3 separate regions of the Homo sapiens genome follow, and regions 2 and 3 are each linked to region 1. Evidence: fine-mapped expression QTL. A gene starts in region 1. Each other region holds a variant in brackets. All regions are shown on one strand. Distances are from middle to middle.

Region 1 (8,181 bases):
CCAAGTCTTCTCTCAAAAAAAAAAAAAAAAAAAGAAAATTAAATTAAATTAAAAAAAAAAAAAAGAAGCCAGGTCTTCTACAAGCTGACATAAAGGACCCACCCAGGACGGGGGCAGTGGCTCACACTTGTAATCCCAGCACTTTGGGAGGCCAAGGTCGGCGGATCGCTTGAGGTCAGGAGTTTGTGACCAGCCTGCCCAACATGGTGAAACCTGTCTCTACTAAAAAAAGTACAAAAGTTAGCCAGGCGCCGTGGCACGTGCCTGTAATCCCAGCTACTCAGGAGGCTGAGGCACGAGAATCACTTGAACCCAGGAGGCAGAGGTTGCAGTGAGCCAAGATCACGCCACTGCACTCCAGCCCGGGTGACAGAGCAAAACACCGTCTCAGAAAAAAAATGGACCCACCCACAAAAGAAAATTTCAAAATGCATTTTAACCTTGACTCACTTGTCAAGGTTTATATTTTTTAAATTCTCAGATTATAAGAATTTAATAAATTAATGTTTTAATCTCACTTTTTTAATATATGGGGTCTCGACACATTGCTCAGAATTCCTAGGCTCAAGCATTCTTCCCAACTCAGCCTCCCAAGTAGTTGTAATCTCCCTTTTTTTTTTTTTACTTTTTTGAGACTGGGTCTCACTCTTTCACCCAGACTGGAGTGCAGTGGCATGATCACAACTCACTGCAGCCCCAACCACCTGGGGTCAGGCAATCCTCCCACCTCAGCCTCCCAGATAGCAGAGATTACAGGCACGTGCCACCACGCCCAGCTAATTTTTTGTATTTTTTGTAGAGATGGGGTTTTGCCATGTTGCCCAGGCTCGTCTTCAATTCCTGGGCTCAAGCAATCTGCCCATCTCAGCCTCCCAAAGTGCTGAGATTACAGGCATGAGCCACTGTGCCTTGCCTGTAATCTCACTTTTAAAGTCAAGTTTAATGAAGTTTTACTAATTTTAAATCATTAAGATTTTTCTAGTTTGATAGGTTTAACTATAAATTTCCAGGTCAGAATGCATGATACTTTACACAGACATAGCCATTTAAAGTTGCCTTAAGGTGAAATTTTAGAAACTCATCCTCTTTTTCCCAATGATTTATATGACGGGCTCGTGTAACTTATGTTATGGAAAAATTCCTTGGGTTTCATTTTCTCTCTTTTTTTTTTTGAGATGGAGTCTCACTCTGTCGCCAGGCTGGAGTGCAGTGGCACAATCTTGGCTCACTGCAACCTCTGCCTCCCGGGTTCAAGCAATTCTCCTGCCTCAGCCTCCCAAGTAGCTGGGACTACAGGCAAGCGCCACCACGCCCAGCTAATTTTTGTGTTTTTAGTAGACATGGGGTTTCACCACATTGGCCAGGCTGGTCTCAAACTTCTGACCTCAGGTGATCTGCCTGCCTGGGCCTCCCAGAGTGTTGGGATGACAGGCGTGAGCCCCTGTGCCTGGCCCAGGTCTTTTTTTTTTTTTTTTTTTTTGAGATGGAGTCTCGTTCTGTAGCCCACGCTGGAGTGCAGTGGTGCGATCTCAGCTCACTGCAACCTCCACCTCCCAGGTTCAAGTGATTCTCCTGCCTCAGCCTCCCGAGTAGCTGGGAATACAGGCACATGCCACCACACCTAGCTAATTTTTTGTATTTTTAGTAGAGACAGGGTTTCACCGTGTTAGCCAGGATGGTCTCAATCTCCTGACCTCATGATCTGCCCGCCTCGGCCTCCCAAAGTGCTGGGATTACAGGTGTGAGCCACCATGCCCAGCCACTAAAAGTTTTTCATGATGATGGTCTTACTTACTATGGTCAAAGTAACTGATACAACATGAAGGGACTTGCCAAATCAGATCAGATACCGTGTTCTAACTCTTTTAATCCTTTTTACTACTTTAACAGTAACCAATTTTTTTTTCTTACAAAGAAGGTAAGGTGAAGGAATTCAGCATTAGGAGAGATAATTTATTCCAGGATTTAGATAACAAATTTAACATAACGTGGATGTTACAATATATCCTATTACTTCCTATTTCTTTCAAGTTATTTCCTATTTCTCTCAAAATTATTTCTCTAAAATCTATGGAGAGAAACAGTTAATAATTTTTTAGTTGCTTGTTATACTTACTCTTAGAAAAACCTGATTTACAATGCTTTTGTTTGCATACATAAAAGTTGTTAGCAGCCCAATTCCAAGAGAAATTCCTGTTAGAAAATAAGTTCCAGTTAATTGAAAGAAAAAAAAATCAAAGAGGATTATATAAGCTAACAATGACACAAATTAAAAATAAACATATACAATAATAAAAGCTCACAGAAAATAAGTAACTGGATGCATTAAGTAGATTACCAATAATGAAAGAAAATTAACTGAATTTAGGAATGAAAACAAGTCAATGTTTTATTATGTCCTACCTGTTATATGCTGCATAACAAGTTTGACGCTCAGAATCAAAATATATGGAAGACTTTTTTGCAGCCACTTGAAGAGATAGCGGAATTCTGAGAAGGAGCTACTACCATGATCTCCAGATTCTGCGGCAGTATCATCAGTCAGCCTTGCTTCACTGTGGGAGTGACCCCGTAAGCGACTGTGTACACATCCATGGGCACAGCTATGGACACCTGACCTTATATTTCTGGAGCTTGCATTTTCTGCACATTCTTTAGGTATGGAGTTTATCTGGATATGAACATCTCCAGAATGAGGGCAAGAACCCTCTCCTGTCAATCTTGTGTGGACACACTGAGGGGTTGAGGCATCCTCACTGCTTCCAGTTCCTGGAGGACTGTGCAGTTGGCTACGATTGGCTTGCATGGCCCTTAAATACTTTTTCTCTGACCCAGATGTCTTTGCTTCAGGCCTCTGTCTCCTAAAAAATCAAATAAAAGATATTCTAAGTAAACAGGCAGTTAAATACCAGCAGTATATTCCTCACTGGGTATCCTTTATTCACTAAAGGAGTAGCAAATAATCACAACAGATGAATTTTCAGGTTATTTATCACTGGACTCCTCCCTTCTCCCTTAATGCCAAGGCTCTGCTGCCCTACACAAATGATCTTTTAGGGAACATTTGCACCAAAAAAAAAAAAGTTGAGCTGCAAATGCTTCCAGTTCTCTAATGGCAGAAGGCATCCGCAAAACAGTCATGAAGTATGGGTACCCAGCAGATGTTAATGAGCACCAGTCCTCACTGGGTACTCTGGTACATTTACTTTTCCCAAATGGTGCAGTTTCATCTCTGATGTAGATTCTACATCAAAGAAGTTTCATAAGGAAGAGTGAGCCAGTATTTTTTAATGGTTGGAAATGTTAGGAAAAAAAACAACATTAAATCTTAATGCCTTATTATCATCATAGGTAACTAATAATAAACACTGCACTTAGGTGACCTACAAATTAGATTTTCTGCTCAAGCAGCTTTCCCAAAGCTCATAAAGTTTCCAATAATTAATGGTGCCACCAATAATATTACCTCCCCGCGCAAAAGAATGTTACCTAAATACATTTAAAGCATAGATACTTTGGAGAGTCACCACGTAATTGCTAGGTAACTCTTTAGTCTGAATAAGCAGTTACACAGTCCGCCCAATAAAATGCCACCGTCGGTGGTGTGTGTATTACGGAGGGAGGGGTGTGAGGAAAGAGGACTCTAGCAGAGAAAGATCTCTCTAATAAATGATCCAGTGTGGACCTCCTAGAAACAGAAGAACAGAGTCGGAATCCCAGCTGACAAAACGCAGAGGCTATCCCACACTGCCGTGCTTTTCCCGTTTGTCTAGGAGGAGGCTAGAGTTAACGTCAGGGAATGTTCTGTGTCATTCTATTTCACTCCCAGGACTGAACAGTGGTGCAGTCACCGTGTCTGGCGGTTTGGGTTTCAGTGCTTTTCACTAAAGGCTTTCACCGAGGCCCCGACGCCACGGGTGTTATTTCGTCAAAACTGAAGAGCGACGTTGGACAGCAGGCTTTCAGTGTCTTTTCTATAAATAACATAGAACCCTCCCACTTTCCTTCATGCACAGACAAGAAAGAGGAGAAAAAAGGGAAGAAAATTCAACACAACTCTTCCGGAATCTCCGAGGGCAGAGTTCTCCACCCACGTCCGAGCCTCGAGTGCCTATTCTCCCCAGAGCCCCCTGCGCCGCGGCCCCTCGCCGCCTCCTCCTCTGCCCGCTTCCCCCAGGCCTAACCTCTCATGACCAGAAGCGGACGGAGGTGTCGGGAGCGACAGCAAGAACAGCGGCATACACCGCCTCCAGCCCTTCAGTCGGGGCCATCAACCGCAAACCCCGCAAGCTCTTCTCTCAGCCCGGCGGCAACGGCGGCGGCGCGCGCGCTCCCCGGACGTTCTCACGCGCGCGCGCGCGCCCTGCCCCGGCTCCACCTCCTAGCCCCGCCCCCGCACCGCGCCGAGTGGAGAGCTCACGGCTGCCGGGGTGTTTTGGCAGCGAGAACAAGCGAGCTGCGCCTGAGAACGGCCTTCAGGCCTGGCGCTAAATAATAAGTCGTTGTTATGTGTTATGTATTTATGTGGCATCCACCACACGCCTCCGAGATCCTGGGCGTTTTGAGGTTAAAAATGTTCAGGCTTGGAGAACCTACCCCTGGAGGAGTGTTAGGGTTTCCGGGCTCGGATGTCCGCGAGCTTGACGCCTGACCTAGTTGTGTCTGTCTGGGCGGTGACGTTTGGTCTGAGCTGACCTTTCCTCACAATCGTGAATTTGGGCTGTGAGGATCAGGCCTTGTCAGAACCCGAGATGAGAGGAGAGAGGTGCGGAGAGTCTGCGTGGGGTGGAAGTAGAAGTTAGAGTTGAAAAACCTGTCTTGCGTGGGGTATAGAGGACCCTACTGCCCTCAAAATAATTATGTTAATCTAAAACTGTTCTAAAATTAAAAGGTTATTAAGAAAACGAAGTTTAGGTCGGGCGCAGTGGCTCACACCTGTAATCCCAGTATTTTGGGAGGCCGAGGCGGGCGGGTCACTTGAGCTCAGGAGGTAGAGACCAGCCTGGCCAACATGGTGAAACCCGTCTCTATTAAAACTACAAAAATTAGCCGGGGGCGTTGGCTCACACTTGTAATCCCCGCTACAGATACTCGGGAAGCTGAGGCATACGAGAATCACTTGAACCCGGGAGGTGGAGTTTGTAGTGAGCCAAGATCGTGCCACTGCACTCCAGCCTGGGCAACAGAGTGAGTGAGACTCGGTCTCAAAAAATAAATAAATAAAATAAATTCTGTTAATCTAAAACTGTTCTAAAATTAAAAGGTCATTAAGAAAACGAAGCTGAGGAGGGGAGTGGTAGCTCACACCTGTAATCCCAGCACTTTGGGAGGCCAAGGCGGGTGGATCACAAGGTCAAGAGATCGTGGCCACATCCTGGCCAATATGGTGAAACCCCGTCTCTACTAAAAATACAAAAATTAGCCGGGTGTGGTGGTGCGTGCCTGTAATCTCAGCTACTCGGGAAGCTGAGGCAGGAGAATCGCTTGAACCCGGGAGGCGGAGGTTGCAGTGAGCCGGGATTAGCCACTGCACTCCAGCCTGGCAACAGAGCGACACTCCGTCTAAAAAAAAAAAGGTTTAGGCCTGGCGTGGTGGCTCACCCCTGTAATCCCAGCGCTTTGGAAGGCCGAGGCGGGAGGATCACTTGAGGTCAGGAGTTTGAGACCAGCCTGGCCAACATGGCGAAACCCTGTCTCTACTAAAAATACAAAAATCACCCGGGCTTGGTGGCGGGCGCCTGTAATCCCAGCTACTCGGGAGGCTGAGGCAGGAGAATCCCTTGAACCCAGGTGGCGGAGGTTGCAGTGAGCTGAAATCGTGCCACTGCACTCCAGCCTGGGCGGCAGAAGGAGACCCCCACCTCAAAAAAAAACACATTGGCTTTCTTTTTTTGTTGGGGGTGGGGGTAGGGGTGGTCGGCGGTGGTAGAAGGCATACTTAAGTCTCTCTGTGCTTACTAATTTAAATCTTTCTGACAGATTTCTGGTTCAGTAAGGGTGAGAGCCAGGCTCCAGACTATAGTGAATTTTCCGAGGAGATATGTGTAAGTATTCTAACATTTCAACTATGTCGTGGATATTTTTAAACTTCAAAATGTGTGAACATTTAGGAAACAGGAAAAAAAACAGAATATAACATAATTCAGCCACAGCCACAATGCAGCACCAATATGTATTAGTACACTGATAATTTTAGTACATTTGGTACATTTGTAAATTTAGAATACCAAATGTAGTGTTTAAATTCTCATCTTGGCCAGATACTACGGTTCATTCCTATAATCCTAGCACTTTGGGAGGCTGAGGTGAAAAGGTCGCTTGAGCCCAAGAGATCGAGAGCAGACTGGACAACATAGAGAGACCCTGTCTCTAGAAAAAAATGTTAAAATTAGCTGGGCACTGTGGCAAGGGCCTGTAGTCCCAGCTACTCAGGAGGCTGAGGTGGGAGAATCCCTTGAGCCAGGGAGATTAAGGCTGCAATGAGCCGTTATTGCTCCAGTCTGGGAACAGAGTGAGACCCTGTCTCAAAAAAAAAAAAAAAAAAATTCTCCTTTTGACATACTCATAACACTGCAGGTATATTAGTCCATATTTAAAGTTTATTAGTGCACTTGGAGCTGCATTTCACCCAAGTAACTTGACTGAAAAGTGACATATTTGAAGAAAGAAAGGACTGAATTGATGAGAAGATTTGACTTGGTGACAGGCTATTATCTGATAAATTTTCTTTCCACTGGCATCTGGACTGTTGGAAATAGACATTTTAATTTTAATTGGTTAATTCAAAAAGCATTTTCCAAGTACTTACTGAGTGTTAAGAATAATACTAGATGTTGGAGAGAGAGACATAATAAAGAGTCTCGGGCCAGGCATGATGGCTCACACCTGTAATCTCAGCACTTTGGGAGGCCACAGCAGGTAGATCACTTGAGGTCAGCAGTTCAAGACCAACCTGGCCAACATGGTGAAACTCCATTTCTGCTAAAAACATAAAAATTAGGGCCAAGCACAATGGCTCACGCCTGTAATCCCAGCACTTTGGGAGGGTGAGGCAGGCGGATCACCTGAGGTCAGGAGTTCAAGACCAGGCTGGCCAACATGGTGGAACCCCGTCTCTACTAAAAATACAAAAATTATCGAGGTATGGTGGCACGCGCCTGTAATGCAGTTACTCAGGAGGCTGAGGCAGGAGAATTGCTTCAACCTGAGGCAGAGGTTGCAGTGAGCCAATATCATGCCACTGCACTCCATCCTGGGCAACAGAGCAAGACTCCATCTCAGAAAAAAAAGAAAAAGAAAAGTTGCCATCTCATGGTGATGGAAATGTTTAGACCTGCAAACAAATAATTACAGTATTTTGGAGAAAACACTATAATTGAAGGTTCTGTGAGATGCAATGGAAGCAAAAGGTAGAAGCATTTAACTTTGTCAGGGAAGAAATCTTTTATTAAATTTGTGATATTTAAGATGAAATCTTTTTTTTTCTTTCTTCTTTTGATAGAGTTTTGCTCTGTTGCCCAGGGTGGAGTACAGTGGCGCAATCTTGGCTCACTGCAACCTCTGCCTCCTGGGTTCAAGTGATTCTAGTGCCTCAGCCTCCTGGATGAAATCTTAAGAATAAGTTGATATTTACCAGGACAGAAGCAGTAACAGGGCAATGCAGATAGAAACATTATATGGAAAATGGTGGTATTGAAATACCATGGTCTTTTAAAGAGTGTTTTTCGTATTTGGAAGAGTAGAGTGGATAGAGTAGTAAGAGATAAGTCAGGTAAGTATGAGCTAGAAAATGAGTTTGTGGGCCTCACTTAGTTTATTCTAATGGCCAAAAGGAAGCTATTGAGTTTTAAGCAACAGAATTGTGTGACTGGATTTGTGTTTTTCAGAAAATTCATATGCTGATAGTAGCAGTGCAAGCTCCATTAGGAGACTATTATAAGTAGTTCAGGAACAAGATGAGGTCTTGAACTTGTCAGTGAAGTGGGATTCAAGAAGAAGAATGAGATTGGAGAGGTTATGAAATAGAATCAGTAGGGTTAAGTGTCCTAGATTGTTGCAGTTAAGCTCGTCACCCCCTCTACTACCCACACAAATTTTTCACACCTACCAATGTCCATATGCTTGGGTAGTCTCCTCGCAGACTGATTTAAGTGATTTGCTTTGATCCTTGGGACAATAGCA
Region 2 (8,181 bases), 44 kb before region 1:
TACAGGCATGAGCCACCATGCCCAGCCAACTGCTATCTTTTTAATTCAGCAGTTTTCAATTTTTTTTTTTAGACGGAGCCTCACTCTGTTGCCCAGGCTGGAGTGCAGTGGCGTGATCTCAGCTCACTGCAACCTCCACCTCCCAGGTTAAAGCGATTCCTCTGCTTCAGCTTCCTGAGTGTCTGGGATTACAGGCGCCCACCACCACACCCGGCTAATTTTTGTATTTTTAGTAGAGATGCGGTTTCGCCATATTGGCATGCTGGTGTCGAACTCCTGACCTCGGGGGATCGGCCCGCCTTGACCTCCCAAAGTGTTGGGATTACAGGCGTGAGCCACCGAGCCTGGCAGTATTAACTTTCTTTTATGCGAGTTAAGGATTTGTTTCTTGTTTACTTCACCCTCCTTTATCCTCATCCTCTCATTTTGTTTTGCTTTCTTTGAATCTACTATTGTCCTCTGATGTCTTCCAACAACTTTGTAAAACACCTTTCAGTCTAATGTTCTTTGATCAGGCTTATAAGATAATCTATCAGTTCCATTTATTTCCCAGAGGCATATCTTAGGAACTTTCTATCCACCTGTTCCCATCTGGAGTGGTAGCTCTTTAGTCACAACTGTTATGACTGGACTCTTTCTTCACCACAACCCTGGAATCCTCTTGGCTCCTTCAGTGTTGGATCTTTTGTTTCCTGGATCCCATATCTTCATTTTTTCCCTTTTTCTTAGTTTATGTCCTTGTTTTGGTGACACTATACTAGTGGCTCCCTCAGACAAGGTATATAAAGATACATTTATAATAAAAATATATCCATATTGCATATTTGAGAATTTCTTTACATTTTTATTTACTTGATTGTTTATGTTATTGGAGTTGAAAATTATTTTCACTTAGAATTTTGCTCAGTTTTCTTCTATTCTTGAGAGTTTCTGTTGAAGTGCTTTGGCATTCTGATTCCCAGTCGTTTACACATGGCCTATTTTTTCTGTGGAAATATTTAAGATTTTCTCTTTATTTCTGATCTAAGTTTTTATAGTGATGTGTGTTGCTTTGACTTTGATTATTATTTTTATTTAGTTAGTTTTTGAGATAGGGTCTCGCCCTGTCACCTAGACAGGAGTGCGGTGACACAATTATAGCTCAGTGCAACCTCAAATTCCTGGGCTCAAGCTATCCTCCCACCTCAGTCTCCTGAGTAGCTGGGACCACAGACACGCACCACCAGGCCTGGCTAATAAAAAAAAATGTAGAGATGGGCACTCACCATGTTGCCCAGGCTGGTGTTGAACTCCTGGGCTCAAGTGATCCACCCGCCTCGGCCACCCAAAGTGCTGGGATTGGATTACAGGTATGGCCCACTGCGCCCGGCCTATTTAATTAAATTAATTAATTTATTTATTTTTAAGAGACAGGGTCTCACTCTGTTTCCCAGGCTGGAGTGTGGTGGTGTGATCATACTTCACTGTAACCTGTAACTCCTGGGCTCAAGCGATCCTCCTGCCACAACTTCTGAGTAGCTAGGACTGCAGATGCATGCCACCACGCCCAGTTCATTTTTAAAATGTTTCGTAGAGACAAGGTCTTCCTGTGTTTCCCCGGCTGGCCTGGAACTCCTGGCCTCAAGCAGTTGTTCTGTTTTGGCTCCCAAAGTGTTGGGATTACAGGCATGTGCCACTGTGCCCAGCCTATTTTTATTCTTTTAATCTTAAAGCTTTAGTCTTTCAGTTCTAGGAAATTTTCTTATGTGATTTATTTGGTAATTTCCTTCCCACTGTTTTCTCTTCTTGGAATTGCAATTAGTTGGATGTTGGATCTCCTGGACCGATCATCTAATTTTTCTTATCTTTTCCACGTTTCCATTTCTTTGTCTTGTTTACTTTCTTCTACTCAATTTTTTTTTGAGATGGAGTTTTGCTCTTGTTGCCCAGGCTGGAGTGCAATGGCGCAATCTTGGCTCACCGCAACCTCCGCCTCCTGGGTTCAAGCGATTCCCCTGCCTCAGCCTCCCGAGTAGCTGGGATTACAGGCATGTGCCACCATGCCCGGCTAATTTTGTATTTTTAGAAGAGACAGGGTTCCTCCATGTTGGTCAGGCTGGTTTCGAACTCCTGACTTAGGTGATCCGCCCGCCTTGGCCTCCTGAAGTGCTGGGATTACAGGCGTAAGCCACTGTGCCCAGCCATTTGACTAAATTTTTTTTTAAAGCTGTTGTATTTGTGATTCTCCAGAATTCTTTCTGTTGTTTTTGTTTTATAGCAACCTGTTTAATGAGTATAATATCTTCTCTTACCCCTCTGAGAGTTTTATTTTTTTTTAATGTTTATTATTATTTTTTTGAGACAAGAGTCTCACTCTGTCGTGCAGGTTTGAGTGCAGTGGTGCGATCTTGGCTCACTGCAACCCCTGCCTCCTGCGTTCAAGCGATTCTCCTGCCTCAGCCTCCTGAGTAGCTGGGATTACAGGTGCCCGCTACCACACCTGGCTAATTTTTGTATTTTTAGCAGATATCGGGTTTCATCATGTTGGCCAGACTGGTCTTGAACTCCTGACCTCAGGCAAAACGTCCACCTCGGCATCCCAAAGTGCTGGGATTACAGGTGTGAGCCACCACGCCCAGCCTCTCTGAGAGTTTAATTATAATTATTTGAAATGTTCTTTTGTTTTACGCATGTTCTTTTTTGACTTTCTGTTTTCTTTGACTTTGATTTAGTCAGTTTTAGTCACTTTGTTCCATGTTAGAGGCCTTCTTTAGATGTCTGGTGTCATTCACTGATTATTCTTTTTTTTTTTTTTTTTTTTGAGTTGGAGTCTTGCTCTGTCGTCTAGGCTGGAGTGCAGTGGCACAGTCTCGGCTCACTGCAATTTCCACCTCCTGGGTTCAAGCGATTCTTGTGCCTCAGCCACCCAAGTAGCTGGGATAACAGGCATGTGCCACCCTGCCTGGCTAATTTTTGCATTTTTAGTAGTGACAGGGTTTCGCCATGTTGTCAGCCTGATCTCGAACTCCTGACCTCAAGTGATCTGTCCACCTAGGCCTCAATAACCCATCCACTGCGCCTGGCCTGATTATTCATATTTAAGAGTAGAACTCTGAAAAGCTGATCAGAAGTTCTGTGTGTGTAAGCTTCTCTGCAGGGTAGTCAAGTGGTTAGCTGGCACTTGATCAACAACTTCAAATAATAGTGTCTGTAGGGCTGGGTGTGGTGGCTCACGCCTGTAATCCCAGCACTTTCGGAGGCTGAGGCAGGTTGATCACCTGAGGTCAGGAGTTCAAAACCAGCCTGGCCAGCTGGTTTGGGGGCGCTGAGGCAGGAGAATCGCTTGAGCCTGGGAGGTGGAGGTTGCAGTGAGCCAAGATTGCACCATTGTGCTCTAGCTTGGACAACAAGAGCGAGACTCCATCTCAAATAAATAAATAAGTAAATATTGTCTGTAGATCTTTTTTTTTCTGGGGAGGATCAGTTGGTGCTAAGAAAGTTCTGCCATTCATTTGCCTGGAAAAAGCATTCTGGAGCTGAGTGAGAGAAGATGGAGATCTTACCTCTCAACACGCGGACTTTCACTAAACTCGAGTTTTTACATTAGTACTTTACTCTGTGGATCTAATCTTTCACTTTTTTTTTTTGTCCCGGGGAATTTAACTCTCCTAGGGTTAGTTCTTCGACTTAGTATGGAGATGGGAGCCTTTTTGGTCTGTCTGTTCCTTACACAGACTTGTAGATGATCTCCCTGTTTTTAGCACTCCACCTTCTGCCTTCTACAGTCTTCAGTTCCTTTAATTTTTTCCCTTCCTTCTAATTTTTCCTCTAATGTTTGAACCTTGCTGGGGTTCTATAGATAGATTCAACTTCTTTTGTGTATTCCCCTTTGCAGGCACTTAGGTTTGATCTTACCCCACTCTGCTACATCATGGACCATTGCTTTATCCCCACTCTGTCTTTTCAGGTGTGGGATTCCACATGTCTTCTAGTTTTACTGATGGATTATGTGTGTGTTTGTTTTCTTATTCTTGTTTGGGATTGATTACTGAAAAGATTCCACTGTCTTTTTTTTTTTTCCTGGGTTCAAGTGATTCTTCTGCCTCAACCTCCTGAGTAGCTGGGATTACAGGTGCC[C/T]GCCACCACACCCAGCTAATTTTTGTATTTTTAGTAGAGACAGGGCTTTGCCATGTTGGCCAGGCTGGTCTCGAACTCCTGACCGCAGGTGATCCACCCTTCTTGGCCTCCCAAAGTGCTAGGATTACAGGCATGAGTCACTGCGCCCGGCCTCCACTGTCTTAAAACAAAAGTTCCAGTGGAGAACTACTTTAAAGACAATCAAAGTGACTTTTTAAAAAAATTATAAGACTTGTAAAACTTTGGTCCTTCTTGCTGATTTTTATTTAAGCAGTATAAATGACTCCTCAGTTTGAAAGCTGAGGAACAAATACTGTGACCACAATTTTATTGGTAATTGTCTTTAAAAAGCCATCTAGCTATTCTTCACATCAGTTTCTTCTTCAGTGGGTTGACATTGATATCAGCTATTTGACTTTCCTGTTGGAATTGTTTTAGATTAATGATTTTTTAATCTGTAAAACATGTTAGGTATAGAATTGAAGGCAGCATAATAGTGCTTGTCCCAGAAATGTGAAAAGAAGTACTGGTCAAGATTTCTTCTTTTATTTGAAACAGAGTCTCACTACATCACCCAGGCTGGAGTGCAGTGGAGCGTTCTCAGCTCACTGCAACCTTTGCCTCTTGGGTTCCAGTGATTCTAGGGCCTCAGCCTCCCAAATAGCTGGGACTACAGGTGTGTACCACCACGCCTGGCTAATTTTTGTACTTTTGGTAGAGACAGGGTTTCACCATGTTGGCCAGGCTGGTCTCAAACTCCTGACCTCAAGTGACCGCCCACCTCAGCCCCCTAAAGTGCTGGAATTATGGGCGTGAGCCACTGCGCCCAGCCTCTGGTCAAGATTCTTAACTGATTCATTCCTTGTGATGTGTTATTTATGTCGGATAATCAGGCCTGACCATATTAGGCATAATTAGATCTTGGGTGAAGTATGTTTTTGGCACAGGTATCTAGTGAAAAAAAGAGTGCTTGTTTTTTTTCCCCACTCATGGTGGGTGGGGTGGTATATTGGGAAATCCATAGACTTAATTACTGCTAAGTGTCAGGCCTCATTCTGGGGCCCAGGGATCCAGGACCTAAGCTGTTTGCCTCTGCTTTTGCTTGGTTGCCATTGTTTCCCATTCTTGGGGTTCTTTTCTTAATCCTGGCTAGAGGATCTGATACTGTCTCCTTCCTTGTCCTTGAAAGCAAGCTCATAGCAAAAATAATGAAAATAAAGATGTCATTAGGGTTAAGTTCAGGGCTTTCATTTCTAAATCCCCAAGTAAGATGACTATAGGCTCCCTTTGAGTTCCTTCCTTCTGATTTTAATTATCCTGGAGGCAGAGTACTAACCCCTCTGACCTGAGTGTGTGGTAAGTGTATACCTCTTCCCCCAGACTTTAAGATGAAATCAGAGTAGAACCAGGTATCCCCTTAAGTGAGTTGTTTCAATCTGGACATTCTGTCTGGATTTATTAGTTCTCCTGGGACTGTTTACTTCTTATAGGAATGGTACCATTCAGGTATTTGCTTAGAGTGGAATAGTGAGGAAAAGACTATCAACAGCCATCACCCGACCCTACCAGTTGCAGCAAAAATATACCATGGAAGCAAAATACTATTGCCTACGGCATTAGTTCACCTCCCACTGTACATTTTAGAACCTTTGGCCAAAGGTGTTCTCCACCTCTGAAATATTGCGGTTTCATAGAACAATAACTTTCTCACTTTTGACTTACTTGATTCCTACAATGCCTGTTTTTTGGCCCTAAGCCCTTTAGTTAATAAATTTTAGTTAATAAATTTTCCTCATGTACAATTTGAGAGTTAACTGCAGATTTCATAGCACTTCACCCCTAATTTCATCTATACATCTCCTAAGAATAAGGGCATTTTTTTTTTTTTTTTTTGAGAAGCAGTCTCACTCTGTTGCCCAGGCTGGAGTGCAGTGGTGCAATTTTGGCTCACTGCAACCTCCACCTCCTGGGTTCAAGCGATTCTCCTGCCTCAGCCCCACAAGTAGCTGGGATTACAGGTGCCTCCTACCACGCCTGCCTAATTTTTGTAATTGTAGTAGAGACGAGGTTTCACCATGTTGGCCAGGCTGGTCTCAAACTCCTGACCTCAGGTGAGCCGCTCTCCTCGGCCTCCCAAAGTGTTGAGATTACAGACTTGAGCCTCCGTTCCCGGCCTCTTTTTCCTTTTGTAGTTAACAAGTGATCTGTGGAATGATAGAAACGGTGTGAATATTCTGTCCTATAATAATCTTTACTTAATGGTTTTATCTGGATTGTTTCTTGCCCAAATATTACTGTACTGTAGTGATTATAAAATGGAGACTTTTCTATTTTTTCTGTATTTTTTCTATATTGTCATTAGTCTGTAAAGATTTTTTTATACTCCTTTTTTTTTTTTTTTTTTTTTTTTTGAGATGAAGTCAGGCTGGAGTGCAGTGGTGTGATCTCAGCTCACTGCAGCTTCTGCCTCCCGGGTTCAAACTATCCTCCTGCCTCAGCCTCCAGAGTAGCTGAGACTACAGGCGTGCGCCATCGCGCCCAGCTAATTTTTTGTATTTTTAGTAGAGATGGGGTTTCACCATGTTGGCCAGGATGGTCTCGATCTCTTGACCCCGTGATCTAGCCACCTTGGCCTCCCAAAGTGCCAGGATTACAGACGTGAGCCACTGCGCCTGGCCCTATACTCTCTTTTAAAAAAATTTGTTTGTTTTTTTTTTTTGAGATGGAGGTTCACTCTGGTGCCCAGGCTGGAGTGCAACGATGTGGTCTTGGCTCACTGCAACCTCCATCTCCCAGGTTCGAGCAATTCTCCTGCCTCAGCCTCCTGAGTCGCTGGGATAGGTGCGTGCCACCATACCCAGCTGATTTTTGTATTTTTAGTAGAGATGGGGTTTCACTATGTTGGCCAGGCTGGTCTTGAACTCCTGACCTCATGATCTGCCCGCCTCAGCCTCCCAAAGTGCTGGGATGACAGGCATGAGCCACCGCACCTGGTCTTTTTTTTTTTTTGTGAGACAGGTTCTTCCTCTGTTGCCCAGGCTTGAGTGCAGTGGCATGATCATGGCTCACCACACCCTTGGACACCAGGCTGCCTCAGCTCACTGCAACCTCTGCCTCCCAGGTTCCAGTCATTCTCGTGCCTCAGCCTCTGGAGTAACGGGAGTATAGGTGTGTACTATCACACGTGGCTAATTCTTGTATTTTTAGTAGAGATGAGGTTTCTCCATGTGGGGCAGGCTGGTCTCAAACTCCTGGCCAACATGGTGATCCGCCTGCCTCGGTTTCCCAAAGTGCTTCATATTGTTAGCCCTAATTCTAGTCCAATTCCATAGCGTTCTTTTTTATTTTTATTTTTTTATTTTTGAGATGGAGTCTCGCTTTGTCCCCCAGGCTGGAATGCAGTGGTGTGATCTCGGCTCACTGCAGCCTCCACCTCCTGCGTTCAAGCAGTTTTCTGCCTCCGCCTCCTGAGTAGCTGGGATTACAGGTGCCTGCCACCACGCCCGGCTAATTTTTGTATTTTTAGTAGAGACGGGGTTTCATCATCTTGGCCAGGCTGGTCTTGAACTCCTGACCTTGTGATCTACCTGCCTCGGCCTCCCAAAGTGCTGGAATTACAGGTGTTAGCCACCGTGCCCGACCACATTCTTCTTTCAGTTCATATTTGGATATCCTTTTTTTCTACAGTGAGAAGAACTCTGGTAACAACATAAACGCACTCATTTGTTCAGTTGTACAATATGTGCATAATGAAAATTGTAATACCAATAGTATTTCCAGCTACAAACCTACTAAGTTTGATTTAATATTTCTTTGCAATTTTTTGTGTGCTTACATATAGGCCACTAAGGGTGTGCAGTCTAAAATTACTTAAATATCTTTTTCTCGCTGGGTGCAGTGGCTCACACCTGTAATCCCAGCACTTTGGGAGGCCAAGGCGGGCGGATCATGAGCTCAGTTCGAAACCAGCCTGGCCAGCATGGTGAAACCCCATCTCTACTAAAAATACAAAAATTAGCCAGGTGTGGTGGCAGGTGCCTGTAGTCCCAGCTACTTGGGAGGCTG
Region 3 (8,181 bases), 780 kb before region 1:
GTACACTGGCGTTGGAATTTGGTTTTTTTGGCTTTTTTTTTTTTTTTTTTTTTTTTTTTTTTGAGAAAAAGTCTCGCTCTGTTGCCCAGGCTGGAATGCAGTGGCTCAAACTTAGCTTACTGCAATGTCTGCCTCCTGGGTTCAACGGGTTCTCTTGCCTGAGCCTCCCGAGTAGTTTGGATTACAGGTGCACACCACCATGCCTGGCTAATTTTTCTATTTTTAGTAGAGATGGGGTTTTGCCATGTTAGTCAGGCTGGTCTCAAACTCCTGACCTCAAGTGATCTGCTTGCCTCGGCCTCCCGAAGTGCTGGGATTATAGGCGTGAGCCACCGCGCCCAGCCTGAGTTTCTTTTTAGAAACAGCAGTCTAAAAACAAGATAGTATAATCCTCTTTTTTGTACACAGAGTAAAGAGGACAAATAGGTGCAAGAATAAATGAAAGGCTGGAATCCCACTTCCCCCGCTGTCCCAGGGTATTGGATATTGACAGATAGGAGGAAGCAAACCACTCACAGAGCCAGGAATAAATGAATGCATTGGTATTGCCGGGAGAAGAGGCCGGCGCGGCTAAAATATGCTATGACCATAGCCAGGAGATACTGGTGGAGAGAAAGGAACACAGAAAGGGAGAGGTCACATCTTGGGAGAGGAAGATCGTGGAGACAGTGGAATGGGGGTCTAGGGAGGGTTTGCCCATCAGAGAAGGGACCTGAGTGTTGGGGTGACTGTGCTCATGTGGAAATTGCGGGGTGGTGGGGTATTTGAAGGTCGGATGCAAATCCGAGAAGCTGGAGGAAGGCATGTTGGTGATGCTCCCAGGATGGTGGGCTCTGATGAGATCTTTGAAGGAGTGTGTCTAGGTCGGCTGGTATCAGGAGGGTCTTTTGTGTGCCAGGCAGAGAACTGTCCCAAAGAACTGAGAGTAAAGGGGCTAGGAGCTTCAGGGCTGCGGCCTGACTGTGGCCCAGAGCTCAGATCCCAAATGACCCATAGGAGAGGCAGGGGCCACTCATTCACTCAGCAAGAGACCAGCAGAGTCCTGAGGGAGATGCTGACAAATAATAAAAAGACCAAGAATAGCCGGGAGTGGCAGCTCAAGCCTGTGATCCCAGAAGTTTGAGAGGCTGAGACAGGAGGATCAAGTGAGTCCAACAGTTCTAGAACAACCTGGGCAACATAGCAAGACTGTTTGTATAAAAATTATTCGAGCATGATGGCATGTGCCTGTACTCCCAACTGCTCAGGAGGCTGAGGCAGGATTGCAAGAGCCCAGGAATTAGAGGCTGTGGTGAGCTGTGATCATGCCACTGCACTCCATCCTGTGGAACACAGCTAGATACTGTCTCGAAAAAAAAAAAAAAACAGGTGGGCACCAAGACTCAAGACTGTGGGAGCCAGAGGGGCACAGTGGCTCACATCTGTAATCCCAGCATTTTGGGAGGCCAAGGCAAGCGGAACACCTGAGGTCAGGTGTTCAAGACCAGCCAGGTCAACATGGCAAAACCCCATCTCTACTAAAAACACAAAAATTAGCCAGCCATGGTGGTGCATGCCTGTAATCCCAGCTGCTTGGGAGGCTGAGGCAGGAGAATGCCTTGAACCCAGGAGGCTTCAGCTGCAGTGAGCCAAGGTTGAGACACTGCCCTCCAGCCTGGGCAACAGAGCGAGACTGTCTCACAAAAAGAAAAGAAGACTGTGGGAGCATCTGGTGGGAAGTGCTGGAGGGAGAGAAGAGAGGAACTGTGGGTTTAGAAGCTGCACCCTCCCCCTGGCAGTGCACTGAAGCAGGAACACGGTTCCGTGGAGAACAAACTTACCTTGTCTGACAACCTCAAATCTTTGTCCCAGGCGAGGAAGCTTTTAATGACAGGATCCTCTGTGATTAGAGAGTAGATGTCAGCTTGAAAAGCAGGACAGGGTTTCCGTGGGAGCAGCAGGGCAGCAAGGAGAAGTGTGTCTCCCAGGGGGAAGTCTCAGGATTGCTGCCACAGGTGAGGTGGATGGGAAAGAGGAGAATGACTTTCACTGGGCAAGGGAGAGAGGCTCCCGCTCTGAGACTCCCCTGAGAAGAGGCTGAAGGAGGCCCTGGGTGTGAGAATCTACAGGATGTAGAGCTGGCAAAAAGCCAGAATGCCCTCCCAGCAGACACAGAGGGACCACTGCAGAGTCATAAAGGAATTCCCATCATTTCCTCATGAGACAGTCACATCAGGGTGTGACTATGGCCTAGGTATCCCCCTCTATGGATGGAGACACTTAGGTTTAGAAAAGTCAGCAAGAGACATTAAGTTTCAGAGGGCACAGCTGAAGCCGCTTTCTTTGATTTTTTATTGTGATTTATTGATTTATTTATTTATTTATTGAGATGGAGTCTCGCTCTGTGGGCCGGGCTGGAATGCAGTGGCATGATCTCAGCTCACTGCAACCTCGGCCTCCCGAGTTCAAGCGATTCTCCTGTCTCAGTCCCCTGAGTAGCTGGGATTACAGGCGTGTGCTACCACGCCTGGCTAATTTTTGTATTTTTAGTAGAGATCAGATTTTACTATGTTGGTCAGGCTGGTCTCTAACTCCTGACCTGCCTCGGCCTCCCAAAGTGCTGGGATTACAGGTTTGAGCTACTGTGCTTTTTCTTTTGAGACAGAGTTTTGCTCTGTCACCCCGGCTGGAGTGCAGTGGTGCCATCATAGCTCACTGCAGCCTCAAAGTCCTGAGTTCAAGCAATCCTCTTAACTCAGCCTGCCAACATGCTGGGATCTCAGACGTGAGCCACCGCACTTGGCCCAAAACCAAGCTTTCTTATCCCAATTGCCAACCTAATCCTAATCTTCTATCATCTCCTAAGTGTCCCTCATGAGTGATCACTTCTGAGTCCTCCCGCATGGAGAGCTCACCCACTGGGGGCATATTTTTCCCATTGGAAAAGTGTGGTTATTGGAAGTTTCCTCTTTTTTAAAAGAACAGGATTGGAGGTGCTCTCTGGGGTGTCCTCCTACCAAGCAGCCTGTTGAAAGTCTCGTGGTGCTCAGGGAGCACGGGTGACACTCGCCATTGCTTCAGCTTCATCTTGAGCCCACACAGCGTCTCCGCCACCCAGGTCTCCTCAGGCTCAGGGGCGAGCTCCTTCTCTGGCTCCTCCTCCGATGACTCCTCAGATTCGTCCGACCACTCCCTCTTCCTTTTCCAGCAAAGGGACCCACACAGGGGGCTGGGATCTACCCCAGGGGCTGAGTAAAGAAACCAGGCCACTGTATAATGCTTCTGCAATTGAACTCCTTAGAGCCAGACCCAAAACGCCAAACCACTCTCCATCCTCCCCAGCCTCGCAGACTGCTGGCTTCTCCAAGCCATCTTTCCGTCTTTCTCCTTTGCTGAACCCCATGAGCCGCTCCTTCCCCTCCCCATTCTTCCATCTCTCTGTCCTCAGAACACTTCCTCATTTCCTTCCCTCATCCCTAGTTCTCTGAGTCTCTCCTTTTTTTTTTTTTTTTTTTTTGACACAGAGTCTTGCTTTGTCGCCCAGGCTGGAGTGTAGTAGTGCAATCTCGGCTCACTGCAATCTCCGTCTCCCAGGTTCCAGTGATTCTCCTGCCTCAGCCTCCCAAGTAGCTGGGATTACAGGTGCCCGTAATAACGCCCAGCTCATTTTTGTTCTTTTAGTAGGGATGGGGTTTCACCATGTTGGCCAGGCTGGTCTCAAACTCCTGGCCTCAAGTGATCCGCCTGCCTTGGCCTCCCGAAGTGCTGGGATTACAGGTGTGAGCCACTGCACCCTGCCTCAGTCCCTCCATTCTTCCCACACACCTCCTCAGGTGCTCCTTCCTGACTTCTGGGCCCGTCCTTGTTTTTTTTTTTTTGTTTTTTTT[G/GTTTTTTTTT]TTTTTTTTGCCACAGGGTCTCAGTCTCTCAGACTGGAGTGCAGTGGTGCTATCTCGGCTCAAAGCAACCTCTGCCTCCCGGGTTCTAGAGATTCTCCTGTCTCAGCCTCCCAAGTAGCTGGGAATACAGGCGTGCGCCACCACACCCGGCTAAGTTTTGTATTTTTAGTATTGACTAGGTTTCACTATATTGGTCAGGCTGGTCTCGAACAACTGACCTCAGGTGATCCACCCGCCTCAGCCTCCCAAAGTGCTGGGATTACAGACATGAGCTACTGCGCCCGGCCTTTGGTTTTCTTTTGAAACAGGGTTTTGTTCTGTCATGCAGGCTGGAGTGCAGTCGTGCAGTCATAGCTCACTGCAGCCTCAAAGTCCTGAGTTCAAGCAATTCTCTTGCCTCAGCCTCCCAGTGTGCTGGGATCTCAGGCATCAGCCACAGCACCTGTCCCGAAACCAAACTTTCTTTTTTTGTTGTTTTTTTGTTTTTTTGAGACAGAGTCTCTCTCTGTCACCCAGGCTGGAGTGTAGTGGCGCGATCTCAGCTCACTGCAAGCAACACCTCCGGGGTTCACGCCATTCTGCTGCCTCAGCCTCCCAAGTAGCTAGGACTACAGGCGCCCACCACCACGCCCAGCTAATTTTTTATATTTTTAGAAAGACTGTGTTTCACCATGTTAGCCAGGATGGTCTCGATCTCCTGACCTCGTAATCCGCCCGCCTCGGCCTCCGAAAGTGCTGGGATTACAGACGTGAGCCACAGCGCCCAGCCCAAAACCAAGCTTTCTTATCCCGAGAGCCAAACTTTATCAACTCCAGCCTAATCCTCTATCATCTCCTAAGCGTCCCTCATGAGTGATCACTTCTGAGTCCTCCCGCATGGAGAGCTCACCCACTGGGGGCATATTTTTCCCATTGGAAAAGTGTGGTTATTGAAAGTTTTCCTCGTTTTTAAAAGAACAGGATTGGAGGTGCTCTCTGGGGTGTCCTCCTACCAAGCAGCCTGTTGAAGTCCTCATGGTGCTCAGGGAGCACGAATGACACTAGCCGTTGCTTCAGCTTCAGCTTCATTTTGAGCCCACACAGCATCTCCGCCACCCAGGTCTCCTCAGGCTCAGGGGCGAGCTCCTTCTCTGGCGCCTCCTCCGATGACTCCTCAGATTGGTCCGACCACTCCCTCTTCCTTTTCCAGCAAAGGGACCTACATGGGAGGCTGGGATCTACCCCAGGGGCTGAGTAAAGAAACCAGGCCACCATGTAATGCTTCTGCAACTGATCACCTTAGACCCCGACCCCGACCCCAACCCCAAACCACTCTCCATCCTCCCCAGCCTTGCAGACTGTTGGCTTCTCCAAGCCATCTTTCTGGCTTTCTCCTCTGCTCAACCCCATGAGCCGCTCCTTCCCCTCCCCATTCTTCCGTATCTCTGTCCTCAGAACACTTCTTCATGTCCTTCCCTGGTCCCTGGCTCTCTGAGTCCCTCCTTTTTTGCTTGTTTTTTTGTTATTGGTTTTTTTTTTTTTTGTTTCGAGACAGAATCTTGCTTTGTCGCCCGGGCTGGAGTGTAGTGGTGCAATCTCAGTTCACTGCAACATCTGTCTCCCGGATTCCAGTTATTCTCATGCCTCAGCCTCTCAGGTAGCTGGGATTACAGGTATCTGCCATAATGCCCAGCTCAATTTTGTACTTTTAGTAGAGATGGGGTTTCACCATGTTGACCAGGCTGGTCTCAAACTCCTGGCCTCAAGTGATCTGCCCGCCTTGGCCTCCCAAAGTGCTGGGATTACAGGTGTGAGCCACTGCACCTGGCCTGAATTTCTCCATTCTTCCCATACACCCTCCTCAGGTTCTCCTTCCTGACCTCTGACCCTTCTTTTTTTTTTTTTTTTTTTTGAGACAGTGTCTCACTCTCTCACCCAGACTGGAGTGCGGTAGCACAATCTTGGCTCACTGCAACCTCTTCCTCCCAGGCTCAAGTGATTCTCCTGTCTCAGCCTCCCAAATAGCTGGGATTACAGGCGCGCACCACTACCACCTGGCTAATTTTTGTACTTTTAGTAGAGATGGGGTTTCACCATGTTGGCCAGGCTCGTCTTGAACTCCTGACCTCAGGTGATCCATCCGCCTCGGCCTCCCAAAGTGTTAGGGTTACAGGTGTGAGCCACTGCACCTGGCCCCCTTCCTTCACCTTAGTCAATCCTATCCCACCTCTTCTTCCTCCAGTCCCCTCACCTGATGGTCCCGACACTTCATCATCCACCACCTCCTGGAGGGGGTACCCTGAGGTGCTCAGCTGGGGGCTCTGCTCCTCATCCTGGGGGTGCGGTTGATGGCTGGTCATGATCTTTCCCAAAATCTATCCCAACCCACGGAACCTAGTCTCTGTTCTATCCAAGGCCTTCTTCTGGACTCTGCTAGGACCCAGAAGGTGTGTTATCAATTCTCGAGGCTGAGAGAAGTCAGGAGTGGAGAACAGCTCTGAGAAGATGCAGTTGTCCACTTGAGCTCCCAGATGCCCATGGAGTCCAGTCCTTCCAATCAGGAAGGTTGGAATCTCTGATGTCATTGGTCATTCCAACCTGGCAACCAGTTTGAAGAAAAACACATGTAACTGCCAGGCTGGTCTCTTGTCCTGGAGATCCTGGGTGAATGGTATCTCCTGCCACTGTCCCAACCTCAGACCACCATCCAAAAGCATCTTCAGGGTCTCCGCATCCATCTGTTCCCTGTCCCAGCAGAGGCTGTGTCTTCTCCACTCAAAGCCTGAAGCATTTTGGGGTCTCCTCTTCTCTGTACATGCCCATTTCAGAGTCCAGTCTGGTGGGAGAGGGAGGGTGGGAAAGAAAACTAGGGTAAGCAGAAACTATGAAACCTTACAAGTGTGAGATTATCATATACAAGAGATCCCAGGAACATTGACTTGATGAAAAAGTCACATCAGAGCACTCAATTTGGCAGAGCTTTTCTGCCGAATGTTTACTGACATTCACTGTCCGAGATTCTATACTGGGGGTACACGTGTCCTCTGCCGTAAGGCATCTTTGAGTCCAAGAGACATTTTGAGGCCTGAAAATCATAGGAAACTGCCCATGAGCTCACTCATATTTCCAATGGTGTCCCCAGTTTCAGGGAGTCCATGGATTACCTAAGGCCAGCCCCTCCAGTTCGGCTAAGAAACTCTAGTCTATATATTAAGTTTTGTATCATATGTATTGCTCTGAACTCAGAAATTTCCCTACCATTTATGGATTCTATGAATAAAATATCGCATGTACAAAAAGACTAAGTCGAAAAATCTCAGCTGTGCACAGTGGCTCATGTTTGTAATCCCAGCACTTTGGGTGGCCAAGGGAGGAAGATTGCCTGAGGCCAGCAGTTCAAGACCAGTGTAGGCAACATAGCATGACCCCATCTCTAAAAAAACAAAACCAAACCAAATTAGCCAGGTGTGGTGGCTGGCACCTTGTTCCAACTACTTGGGAGACTCATGCGACAGGAAGATCGCTTGAGCCCAGGACTTAGAAGCTGCAGTGAGCTATGATCTTGCCACCGCACTCCAGTCTAGGCAACACAGCAAGACGTTGTGTCAAAAAAAATTTTTTTGATAAAAAATAAAAGAGTTGGATGACATTCAGAGACCATCCAAAAAACCTGTCAGTTCCTGGCCGGGCTCAGTGGCTCACGCCTGTAATCCCAGCACTTTGGGAGGCCAAAGGAAGTGGATCACTTGAGGTCAGGAGTGTGAGACCAGCCTGGCCAACATGGTGAAACCCCGTCTCTACTAAAAATACAAAAAATTAGCCAGGCATGGTGGCGGGTGCCTGTAATCCCAGCTACTCAGGAGCGGGGACTGGAGAATCACTTGAACTCGGGGTGCGGAGGTTGCCGTGAGCCAAGATCGCACCATTGCTCTCCAGCCTGGGCAACAAGAGCAAAACTCCGTCTCAAAAAAATAAACAAAGAACCTGTGAGTGAGTTCCCATATGGCTTCCTAATGGGCTGTGGCTCTCCTAGGAGTCTCTTGCTCATGGGAAAGGCCCAAACTGAATGAGGAAGCAGATCCCATTGCTATGGAAGTCCCATTGGTAGGAAGCTCTGCTTTTCTGGAGTTCAAATTTCCATTCATGACGCTTTAAACCGCCAGAGCTGGGTGGGTCCTGACAAAACAGTTTGCTATCTCTCTCCTAGTTAACAGGCTTTCATATATTAGAAGATCAATGTTCTGACCCCATTAAAAGTTCTCTTTTGTGGAATGAAAAGCTCTGATTTAACCCATCTTCAAACCTGGTTTGCATATTCTTCTCTCTTCTGGCACAC

Alleles and levels. Positions count from the first base shown, and alleles are read on the strand shown. Sizes are in standard deviations (SD) of each study's normalised expression. Not every link is listed here.
In carriers of allele G in region 3, the expression in monocytes after LPS of the gene that starts at base 4,317 in region 1 tends to be higher than with GTTTTTTTTT alone (moderate effect, 0.54 SD a copy in Quach 2016).

What was found. PIP is the estimated chance that this variant, and not a neighbour inherited with it, causes the effect.
Region 2: its variant is the best candidate, but not a certain one, in a credible set for the expression of RNFT1 in whole blood (INTERVAL, PIP 0.88).
Region 3: its variant is the best candidate, but not a certain one, in a credible set for the expression of RNFT1 in monocytes after LPS (Quach 2016, PIP 0.69).

Annotation. Positions count from the first base shown.
Region 1 is chr17:59,960,424-59,968,604 of GRCh38, forward strand. It overlaps RNFT1 (ring finger protein, transmembrane 1), which reads right to left and starts at 4,317. Exons shown (of 9, transcript NM_016125.4): 1 at 4,185-4,317; 2 at 2,404-2,861; 3 at 2,117-2,193. The coding sequence starts at 4,240. It overlaps RNFT1-DT (RNFT1 divergent transcript), which reads left to right and starts at 4,673. Exons shown (of 4, transcript NR_110815.1): 1 at 4,673-4,765; 2 at 5,980-6,044. It also overlaps the pseudogene TBC1D3P1-DHX40P1. RefSeq lists a silencer at 4,258-4,387 and an enhancer at 4,418-4,687.
Region 2 is chr17:59,916,050-59,924,230 of GRCh38, forward strand. The region is part of intron 4 of RPS6KB1 (ribosomal protein S6 kinase B1); the gene reads left to right. Among named protein-coding and RNA genes, the nearest start is that of RPS6KB1, 27 kb to the left of the region's middle. The variant C/T (reference allele first, on the strand shown) is at 4,117.
Region 3 is chr17:59,176,653-59,184,833 of GRCh38, forward strand. All of the region lies in intron 2 of PRR11 (proline rich 11), which reads left to right. It also overlaps the pseudogene SPDYE22P. Among named protein-coding and RNA genes, the nearest start is that of PRR11, 25 kb to the left of the region's middle. RefSeq lists an enhancer at 5,726-6,227. The variant G/GTTTTTTTTT (reference allele first, on the strand shown) is at 3,867.